Linked DNA regions of Homo sapiens. The protein of the gene in region 3 interacts with the protein of the main gene of each other region in a pairwise test. Each region holds a gene or a part of one and is shown on either strand. Other genes may lie near its edges.

What was found.
Region 1: the proteins of CEP72 (region 3) and KIAA0408 interact in a two-hybrid assay, tested with the Homo sapiens proteins (one large-scale study listed by BioGRID and IntAct).
Region 2: the proteins of CEP72 (region 3) and SPATA2 interact in a two-hybrid assay, tested with the Homo sapiens proteins (one large-scale study listed by BioGRID and IntAct).

The regions. Positions count from the first base shown.
Region 1 is NC_000006.12:127,442,390-127,446,046, forward strand, and holds part of KIAA0408 (uncharacterized protein KIAA0408), read right to left. Parts: intron 1,894-3,657; coding exon 1,720-1,893; 3' UTR 1-1,719.
Region 2 is NC_000020.11:49,902,771-49,905,566, forward strand, and holds the end of SPATA2 (spermatogenesis-associated protein 2), read right to left. Parts: 3' UTR 621-2,796; downstream 1-620.
Region 3 is NC_000005.10:632,709-636,365, reverse strand, and holds part of CEP72 (centrosomal protein of 72 kDa), read right to left. Parts: intron 2,598-3,657; coding exon 2,419-2,597; intron 995-2,418; coding exon 782-994; intron 1-781. UniProt on the Homo sapiens protein: Involved in the recruitment of key centrosomal proteins to the centrosome.

The DNA.
Region 1 (3,657 bases), on a different chromosome or scaffold from region 3:
GCATATTATGAGAGTGATATTACTTGGTGTCTAGTTTACTTTTCTTTGATAGCTTCCTGTGGAAAAGGATCTTCCTGAAGGAAATAAGAATTAAAAGAGTAGATGTATAGACCTTAGTTACCATCCAATACAAATCACTCTAGACCTTTAATTCCACTTAACTACCGAAACTGTCCTTACAGTAAAGTATGAATCTAGACATCACCATGCTACAGTCTTGAGCCTTTCAAGGAAGTCTGCAATTTGAAAATTATTTTCTTTACCTCAGGTCATGGGGTACAATGAAGTGAATTTCTCTAAATGGTTCAAATACATCATAAGGAGATGGCTCTTGGAATACATTTGGCATAAGAATTTCTTAGTAAAAGAAAAGCTTAAATAGAGTTAATATCTAATAACATAACATAATTGGTTTTATATAGTGACAGTAGAGAGCAAAGTTCCTTCTAAAATCTTCCATTTAGAATTCCAAGCCCCTCGACATTCATATTTCTGTCAGTTTTCAATATAGATTTTATGTGTTCACTGTATGCAAACTGTAGCCAAAATACACATTTCTATTCCTGATGCTACTGTGGATGTCAAGGTTTAGTTTAAGCCTTTTTTCGGTAGCAAACTGTGAGAAGTATAATTTCAGCTTTCAAAGAAATATTATTCCTGATCTTCCTTGTTAGTAAAAAAGTAACTTAGTTTGTTATCTATTAATTTTAAGGAAAAGATTAGAAAAAGGAAAAAAATAATAAATGACTTACCTCTAAGTATGTATGACTCCATGTTAAAGCAGCTAAACTAAAAGCTTACCACAACTTAAAGAAAAACTAAAATTCAACATCATTCAGTTTCTTTTTGCATCCCATTTAGGAAATGTTTGTTGCTGAGGCTGACAAAATAAATTCATCATTTAATCATGTCATTTATAATGCAGTCTCATGATACTGTCTCTGAGGATCAAATATTCAGTTAAAGCCATACTAGACTACCAAATAATATATAAAACATTTATGAACATTTTATGCTTGCTTTACAAGGCTGATCTATTAAACTTGTGACATTTTTATTTAAAAAGAATAAACAAGAATATCAATGGTATTATTTTATCCTTATATGGGTTAAGAAATTATTTATGAGTTGTCTTTAGAAATCTACCAATGTTAGATGTGTGCATAATTCTTCTTTTTCATTGTAGCTGGGGGCCAAGGAAGTGGTCAATTAATATTTGTACTGCAAATGCCTTAAGTGGATACCTATTAAAAGGTATACAAAATATAAACAGTACTGCATATTTTCAAAACTTTTAAATAAACACAAAGAATATATAGGTATACATGTTATAATTTCAAAGTCAACACTAGCACATAAGTTTTTCATATCTAAATACATACTAGGATACTTCCTATTTCAACACATGCACCTACAAACACATGGCCATGCACATAACCTTACTTTCTGCCACTTGCAACAAAGAATATACAATATTGTACATTGTTTCAACTTATATTGTATTGGAAAACTAATGAGGATGGCATTAAAAAATTCTGATCTAAGAAATCAAAATGCAGGAAGATAATTATTCCTTAGATTAAAAACACTGAAGACTGATGGAAAGTTAAGATTCAAATTGCTTGTCGGAAGAGAACAGGTCCGCCTGTAAACACTCAGAATGCTCTGTTTGACAAGTGGGACTAGAACTTCTGTAATATAGCAATCCAGGCCAAAGACTTAAACCATCAATGCTTCGGATCGCAGAGAAATGGTATAGTTGTGGGTAGTTCTCCGCAAGGCAGGGGGTGCAGATGGAGATCTGGATGCCCATCTGGAGGGGAGACGACGATTTGCTGGTCTAGCAGGTCGGGAAAATCCTTTTCCATGTGAGGCGTTCACTGACATGGATTCCTAGGACACAAGTAAAAACATTCCTCTCACTCTCTGGGTACCAACAATAGGCTTAATATATGATGGGTCTCAACTATAAGATTAGTCCGTTAGTAAATTTACAAGAAAGAAAAAGCATTGAAAACTAAAGAAGGTAGTTGTCTAATATTTGTGGTTTTGAATGTTTTAAAGCAATTCAATTTTAATATGGAATATGATATTTGATAATTTTGTACCTTTCCTTACACTGACAAATTTTAATACAGTTAATCTCTCTGTAGAACTAATGATGAGCTCAGGATTTAAAATTTCAAGTTAAATAACTTGAATATCATGGAAATACAGATGTTTCTTAGTGCGCTGTTAGTATGTTACAGTGTTATTTAAAAATAAAAAGATAATTTATAGAAGAAACTGTTCATTTATGTCAAATTCATTGACACTTTTAGAGGTGATACGCAAAAGGCACACAAACCAAATGATTAATCTGATGCTTTTTTTTTTCACTATCACTGGCACTATCTATCAAAACCTTAAAATTATCATTAAAATACTTTTAAATACATCTTCATTCTAATTACTAATACAAAATTGCTATCTCTTGGGCATGTTCTGATGAGAGAAAACCTTTTCCTTCACTTTTCTTCTCTTTCTTTTATTTTCTTCCTTCTTTCCTTTTATTTTAATGGAAAAAAAGCATTCCTTGGTCCTTAAAATTAAAACAAAAGTACAAAGCTTCCATGACACACTTTATACACTTGGTTCTTATTGACCCTTCTTAGACCCCACAAAGCCTGTGCTCTTTCATCTGAGCTAGGCAGTGAGGATGGCCTCCTATTTCTACTATTTTAGCCATGGTCTGACAGTAAACTGCAGTTTCTTTTTCTTTTTGGAGACTTATTTTCTAGATTTGTTCCCACAGGAGGAAGAACAAAAAACAAAAACAAAAACTGCTCCTGAGGATCTATAGTAGAGAACCTCCCTGCCAAACTCCCAATGAATGCAAAAAGGGAAATCACTCAGTATTATTTCTTGTTAGTTAACAAGAATTTTGTTTGGTTATTGTACAGATATATCTATTTCCCATCTTTAGCTATAGGACCTTGTGGGCATTGATGGGCTCAATTAAAAAGCAGAGAAATACAAAAGCAGGATACTTTCTGCACCTTATAAAAACAGGCAAGATTTCTCATAAGATGGATGAAAACTGATATTTTTGCAGGGTTTGAAATCCACATAGTAGTTTTTTACACCAGAAGGAAGCAACTTGCATAATAGTTTAAAACCATGCTGCGTACTCACTGCATTCTATGAAACTAGGAGTTCTGAAGTATTGGTTAATAACAACAATATGTCACCTTGTAATTTTTGTTAGCTTCTTAAAAATTATATGAGTAAAAGAGAGTGTTGTATAACTCTTCTTTGTAAATACCAATTTCTTTGACCTCTTTTTCTCTTATAACTAATGAAGATTAAACTCTTTCATAAATAGACAGGAACAAAAAAAGATAACAGTTTACTTAAAATGTCCATTTGAGTGGGGTTTTTTTGGTCAATTTCTATGCTAAGAATACATACAAATAAGAATAACCTTATTTATATATACTATCTTTTAGTTCCACAGATAAAAGGACTCTATTAGGCACTGTTTTAAATGATGTGTATTTCCCATATTCATATTAATGTGATTAATCCTATGAGAAAGAACATGAGTCAAATGCTGAGAATGACTGAACCAATCATAGTTAATAACTGAAAAATGAAAACGATTTTAAAAATATTTTC
Region 2 (2,796 bases), on a different chromosome or scaffold from region 3:
GCCCACCTGTAGCTACTTGGGAGGCTGAGGTGGGAGGATCACTCAAGTCCAAGAGGTCCAGGCTACAGCTAGCCATGATCACACAACCGTACTCCAGACTGGGAAGTAACAGAGCCCGTCTTAAACTAAAAAAAAAAAACATGGCCGGGCGTAGTGGATCACACCTATAATCCCAGCACTTTGGGAGGCCGAGGCAGGCAGATCACGAGGACAGGAGATCGAGACCATCCTGGCTAATACAGTGAAATCCCGTCTCTACTAAAAATAACGAAAAATTAGCCAGGTGTGGTAGTCCCAGCTACTTGGGAGGCTGAGGCAGGAGAATGGCGTGAACCCAAGAGGCGGAACTTGCAGTGAGCTGACATAGCGCCACTGTGCTCCAGCCTGGGCGACAGAGCAAGACTCCGTCTCGAAAAAAAAAAAAATTTTTTTTACAAAAAATTAAAAAAATAAAAAGTGCCAGGCTCGCAGTATAGCACTCAAATGCTATTTGTCAGTTTCATGGAAGAGAAAATTTAAGTCTTGTCATTAAAAAACTAAATACAGCTTAAGGAAAAATAAACTCCCAAGTAACCAAACTTCAAAGCAGGGCCAGGGGACATAAAACCCCAAACACTTCATTTAACAATGGAAGACACTTTATTATTATTATTTTTAATCATCTCTCAACATTTCAACTCTTGGTAGAAATCAAATGTAAAACATCTGCATTTTTAAATTAGCATGTATTTAACTATCTCAATCACAGCAACCTCATCCAGTAAGATGCACACCTGGGAGCAGGGCTGTAGTATTTCGTATTCCAGTCTGTGACCACAGTGCGTCCGTGATGACAGGTACACTGGACTTTCCCTCCTAGGATGTGTTAGTCATTCCTGCTTTTGTCCATAGGGTAAGTTACGTGGCATCACGGTTGGTTAGAAAGAGTTAGTTACTGTAATGCTGGCGCAATCTGGAAATGGAAAACTAGAAAACTAGAGCTCTCAGGAGTGGGCCAGGCATTGCCGATTCTGAAATGTGAAAAGGAAGAACATCAAAGATGAATGCCCTGCTAGGCTGGTCTTAGTAATAAAGTTGGTTGAAATTCAGCTTAATATACACACTGTACATCTACATGTGATCTACCAGATAGATATATATATATATATATATATATATATATATATATATATATATATATATTAAAAAGAGAGCCATAGAAGATTTGGAAAACCTTAAAATCACTCAACTGAGTTGGAAGAACATCAGCAAATTCACAGTGGCCTCAGGATTCAGCCAGACTTAAACTTGCTCAAGAGCTGAATAACTTTCTCCCAGAAAAGCCCACTGCATATAAATCCCTTAACATTGTGTACATCACAAACAGTTATGGCTAAAATATAGTTAGTTCACAAGGAAGCGGCTTTATTTTCAAACTCTTGCCCCACTCCTGCTCTTGTACCCCCACAAGGAAAATCCAGGGGTTGGTAATTCACATGAGAAGCTGAAGGGGCCTTCAGGCTTGGAAGCGCTTAGGCTTAGCTGAGCATCTGAGGAGCCGTCTCTCTGATGGGCACATGCCGACTCCTGCCCACTTTTAGTGCAAAAAGATTGCAAATGTTGCAGATGAGTCCTGGAAACTGGTGAAGAGAAGAGGATTGAGATGGAGGGGCAGTAGGAATCCCAAATGATTTTCCTTCTGAAACGAGACTCAAGAAGTGTGAAGTGCAAGGTTCCTGCTCAGCAAGCTATAGGTCCGACAGGTGAGGTCCCTGAATTGTCATAGGTTAGCAGTCTGCAGACACACAGACCTCGACACCCGCGCTCACCCCCTAAGTGCACACTGGAGGTAGGTGTATAGATAGTTACTGCAGGGAAGACAGTGGCTCTCCACCAGCTCAAGAAAAGGAGGCTTCATGTCTGTTCCTCCCTGCCCCAAACTCTCCTCTCCCCTCGGGCCATAGTGAGTGGAGGATACAACACGAATGGGCGCGAGGCCCTCCCTTGGAAGACTAAAGAACCCAGGGCATTTAATAAATAGCTACATAATTCATTTTTTTAACCACGTTGAAACACACAGCAAGTTGAATATTTATTTAAAAATAAATCTCAAAAATATCTATTGACAGTACAGTAAGAGGGGCATGTGCAAACAACAGAAAGGGGGAAGTCAGTCCTGCTGTGGGAAGCCCACACATCAGTGTGTTGGAGCAAAGTTCACGAAGGCCATGGGCTGACTGAGCTGTGGTGTACGAAATGACATTCAGCTAATACTGGACTCGGTTCACCTTTGACACCTGGAGAGGTGGGGAAGCCAGGGGGTGGGGAGTCCAGCTGGGGATCCTTGTGTTTAGGAAGGGGGCGGCCAAGGGATGAGCCTTTGGGAGAGGCCCCGTGTGGCAGGAGGGCTCATTTCACAAGCCAACAGGCCTCTAGCTCGCCGCTCCAGGTGGATGTTTGGTGACCTGAAGGGCCCTTCCCAGTCCAAGTTGGCTTTGCAATGGGAGGGGTAGGTGCAGCGAGGGTCCCAGAGACAGAAATCCTCTTTAAAGGAAAAAACAAAACAACAAAACAAAACAAAACAAAACCCCAAAAAAAGAACCAACTGAACAGGGAGTGGAGAGATTAGCAAAATGAATCTGAACGGAAGTGCCACCTTCTCCCTTGTCAGACAACAAAGCAGCCATTGGTTGAGATATCTGAGTCGCTAAGTGAACTCCCACGTGGACACAGCCAGCCCACGATCTCTGCCACCTACATGGTCAAGTGCAGGCCTCCGCCTCTGAGATCAATGCGTTAGTACTTCTTCACCGTGAA
Region 3 (3,657 bases):
GTGAGGGAGGGTGTGCACACACACACGTGCAGAGAAAAAGCACTTATTTACCAACCATGAATCTAAACCATGAATGGATTATAAATTTCAATGTGCTGCATTCTTTCCAAAGACATTTTGGAGAGTTCCACAAACAAATAAATACACAGAGAACAGGAGAAATTTCATAGTAAAAGCAAACGATGTGAAAAATATTTAACTACTTAAAAAGGAACTGAAGGGAGTAAAAGTTGACAGGGATTTCATGTTGCTGTAGTTCGAAGGAACCCCCCAAAGTTCCTAAGCTGGAAACTTATTGCCACTCTAACAGTATTAAGCGGAGGGCCTTTAAGAGGTGAACAGGTCACAGGGCCAGCCCTCAGGGAGGCAGGAATGCTGTAGCACAGGGCTGGGTTCCTGATAAAGGATGAGTCTGGAACAGGTCACAGGGCCAACCCTCAGGGAGGCGGGAATGCTGTATCGCAGGGCTGGGTTCCTGATAAAGGATGAGTCTGGAACAGGTCACAGGGCCAGCCCGCAGGGAGGCAGGAATGCTGTAGCGCAGGGCTGGGTTCCCGATAAAGGATGAGTCTAGCTCCATTTCTCTGTCTTGAGCTTGCTTCTGCCTGCACCATGCTTCTGCCTGTGCCATGGGAGGACCAGCACCAGGTGCCGGCACCGTGCTCTTGGACTTCCCAGCCTCCAGAACCATGAGCCACATAAGCTTCTGTTCTTTATAAATTACTCAGTCTGTGGTTTTCTGTTACAGCAACAGAAAACAGACTAAGACACGCGTAAGTACCTGGGTGTGGGGTGAAGTACGTGTGTGGCCTGGGGGCACGGGAGGCCTCTGGCTCCGCTCCGTACAGTGGCGGAAGCTCTCCACAGAGCTGGCTCCAAGGCATCTTCTCCAGACAGCACCCTCTGCAGCTGCTCCTCCTCGTCTCACGGCCCTGCTTCCCAGAGTCCCCACACTGGTACTGTACCAACTGCGGGCTCAACAGATGTCTGGATTCTATTAAAATATTGTAAATAAAATATTTCATAAAACATTGTAAAAGTTTTATTCCATCAAAAATTACATTTTAAGCTTCTGAATAGTGTATGGTATCTGTTAGACCGAGGGGTTAATCACGTGCTGGGTGACACTGAAATGAATCCACAGTGACTTCTAACAGCAAGAGAGCTTGGAACTGGGAACTGGCGCCACTCGCCTGCGAGACTCAGGACAAGGCTGCAAGAATCCAGCCGCATGAAGTGGAGCAAAGTCAGACAAAATGATGCACAAAACAGAAGAGAGAGTCCAGACAGTCTCAATACAAAATTAGCTGGGTGTGGTGGTGGGCGCCTGTAGTCCCAGCTACTTGGGAGGCTGAGGCAGGAGAATCACTTGAACCCGGGAGGCAAAGGCTGCAGCAAGCCAAGATTGCGCCACTGCACTCCAGCCTGGGCGGCAGAGCAAAACTCCATCTCAAAATAAACAAAACAAAAAACAAAATAAACTGTGCCCTTCATAAACTGGACTGTAATGAAATTAAAACTTGTGCTCTTCAAAGCACTGTTCAGATAATGAAAAGGCCAGCCACAGAAGGGAGGAAATGGGCAGCCCTTGTGCCTGAGAAAGGGCCTGTGTCAAAACCACCAAGATCTCTTAGGACTCAATACTAAGAGAAGCAACCCCAGAACAAAGGTGGGCAGACCTGGAGAGAAAAGAAGAGACAGGCACGGCCAGTATCTCAACAGCAGCGGATGCAAATTAAAGCCATAAACACAGACCACAACCCCCTGACAGAGCAGCTAGGATTAAAGGACTCAGCTCCCAGTGCCGGCAAGGACATGGCTCGAGCACCGCTGCCACAGGGCAGACATCTTTGCACAGATGAACCTAAGATTTCAGCCCAAACTCAGGTCTCCACCTGTTGTTTCCACGAAAAGTTCTCAGAAACTCACAGCGGAGGTGGAATAAATGAAGCTAAAGCCCATCAGCACATCCCAGTGGAGGGCAGTGCCACCGGGCAACGGAGTCTCCGAGACACCCTTGCTGGGATCTACAGGTCTGCACGTGGCGGCCTGAGCTCAGGGTTTCCTGCAAGTTCGGTGACTATGCCCCCCTGCAGCTGCCGCAGATGTCAGCCCCACTTGCCACAGGACACTAGGCTTCTTGTCTGTTTTAGACAGTTTGCCTTTTCCTGTGATCTCAGAAGGATACAATTTAAACCATCATGCAGTATGACTATACTCAAATATGTTAACTTTCTCATTTATAACTCTGTAGTCCAAATGGCTGGCATTCGAAAGCACACAAAGACACATCATGAAGATCCTATCCTTCAAGGTAAGTTCCACAAAAAGAGCAACTGTGGACTCCAAGCCCAGTAACGACTATATATATCCCAGAGCCAGCGGACCCACTGGCCTCCTGGCAGATGAGCAGCGCACCTTGGGAACCACGAGAGTCGGCCTCACGCCCCTTCTGGCTGAAGCTCGTGCTCCCGGGAGGCCTGCCGAGGTCCCACTCGCACTCTGCAATGAGGTTCAGGACTGCCTCGTCATCCGCATCCATGACCAGGCTCTGCTTGGCCAAGGCCTCGGTGCACTTGGCTCTGGGGTGGTGTGGTCTGTAAGGAAAAGCAAACTCATCAGCATCACTCAAGCCAGCCATATGCTCCGGCCCACGCAGACCAGGAGAAGGAAAATTCCTGCACGGTCTCTGAGAGAAGCAGCGTGCTGCAAACGTGGGGCAGCCGGGTCCTGTTGCTTCCACTGCAGTGATGCTAAAGAGTGACTCACCAAGGACAATCGGTGAGCAACAGCCAGGTTACGTGATAACATGACAGCATCCCGGCACTGGACAGAACCCCACCAGGACTGGGCCAAATCCCAGCACTGGACAGAACCCCACCAGGACTGGGCCAAACCCCGGCACTGAACAGAACCCCACCAGGACTGGTCTAAATCCCGGCACTGGACAGCACCCCACCAGGACTGGGTCAAATCCAGCACTGGACAGAACCCCACCAGGACGGGACTAAATCCTGGCACTGGACAGAACCCCACCAGGACTGGGCCAAATCCCGGCACTGAACAGAACCCCACCAGGACTGGTCTAAATCCCGGAACTGGACAGCACCCCACCAGGACTGGGTCAAATCCAGCACTGGACAGAACCCCACCAGGACTGGTCTAAATCCCGGCACTGGACAGAACCCCACCAGGACTGGGCCAAATCCCGGCACTGGACAGAACCCCACCAGGACTGGTCTAAATCCCGGCACTGGACAGCACCCCACCAGGACTGGGTCAAATCCCGGCACTGGACAGAACCCCACCAGGACTGGTCTAAATCCCGGCACTGGACAGAACCCCACCAGGACTGGGCCAAATCCCGGCACTGGACAGAACCCCACCAGGACTGGTCTAAATCCCGGCACTGGACAGAACCCCACCAGAACTGGTCCAAATCCCGGCACTGGACAGAACCCCACCAGAACTGGTCCAAATCCCGGCACTGGACAGAACCCCACCAGGACTGGTCCAAATCCCGGCGCTGGACAGAACCCCACCAGGACTGGGCCAAATCCCGGCGCTGGACAGAACCCCACCAGGACTGGGTCAAATCCCGGCACTGGATAGAACCCCACCAGGACTGGGCCAAATCCCGGCACTGGATAGAACCCC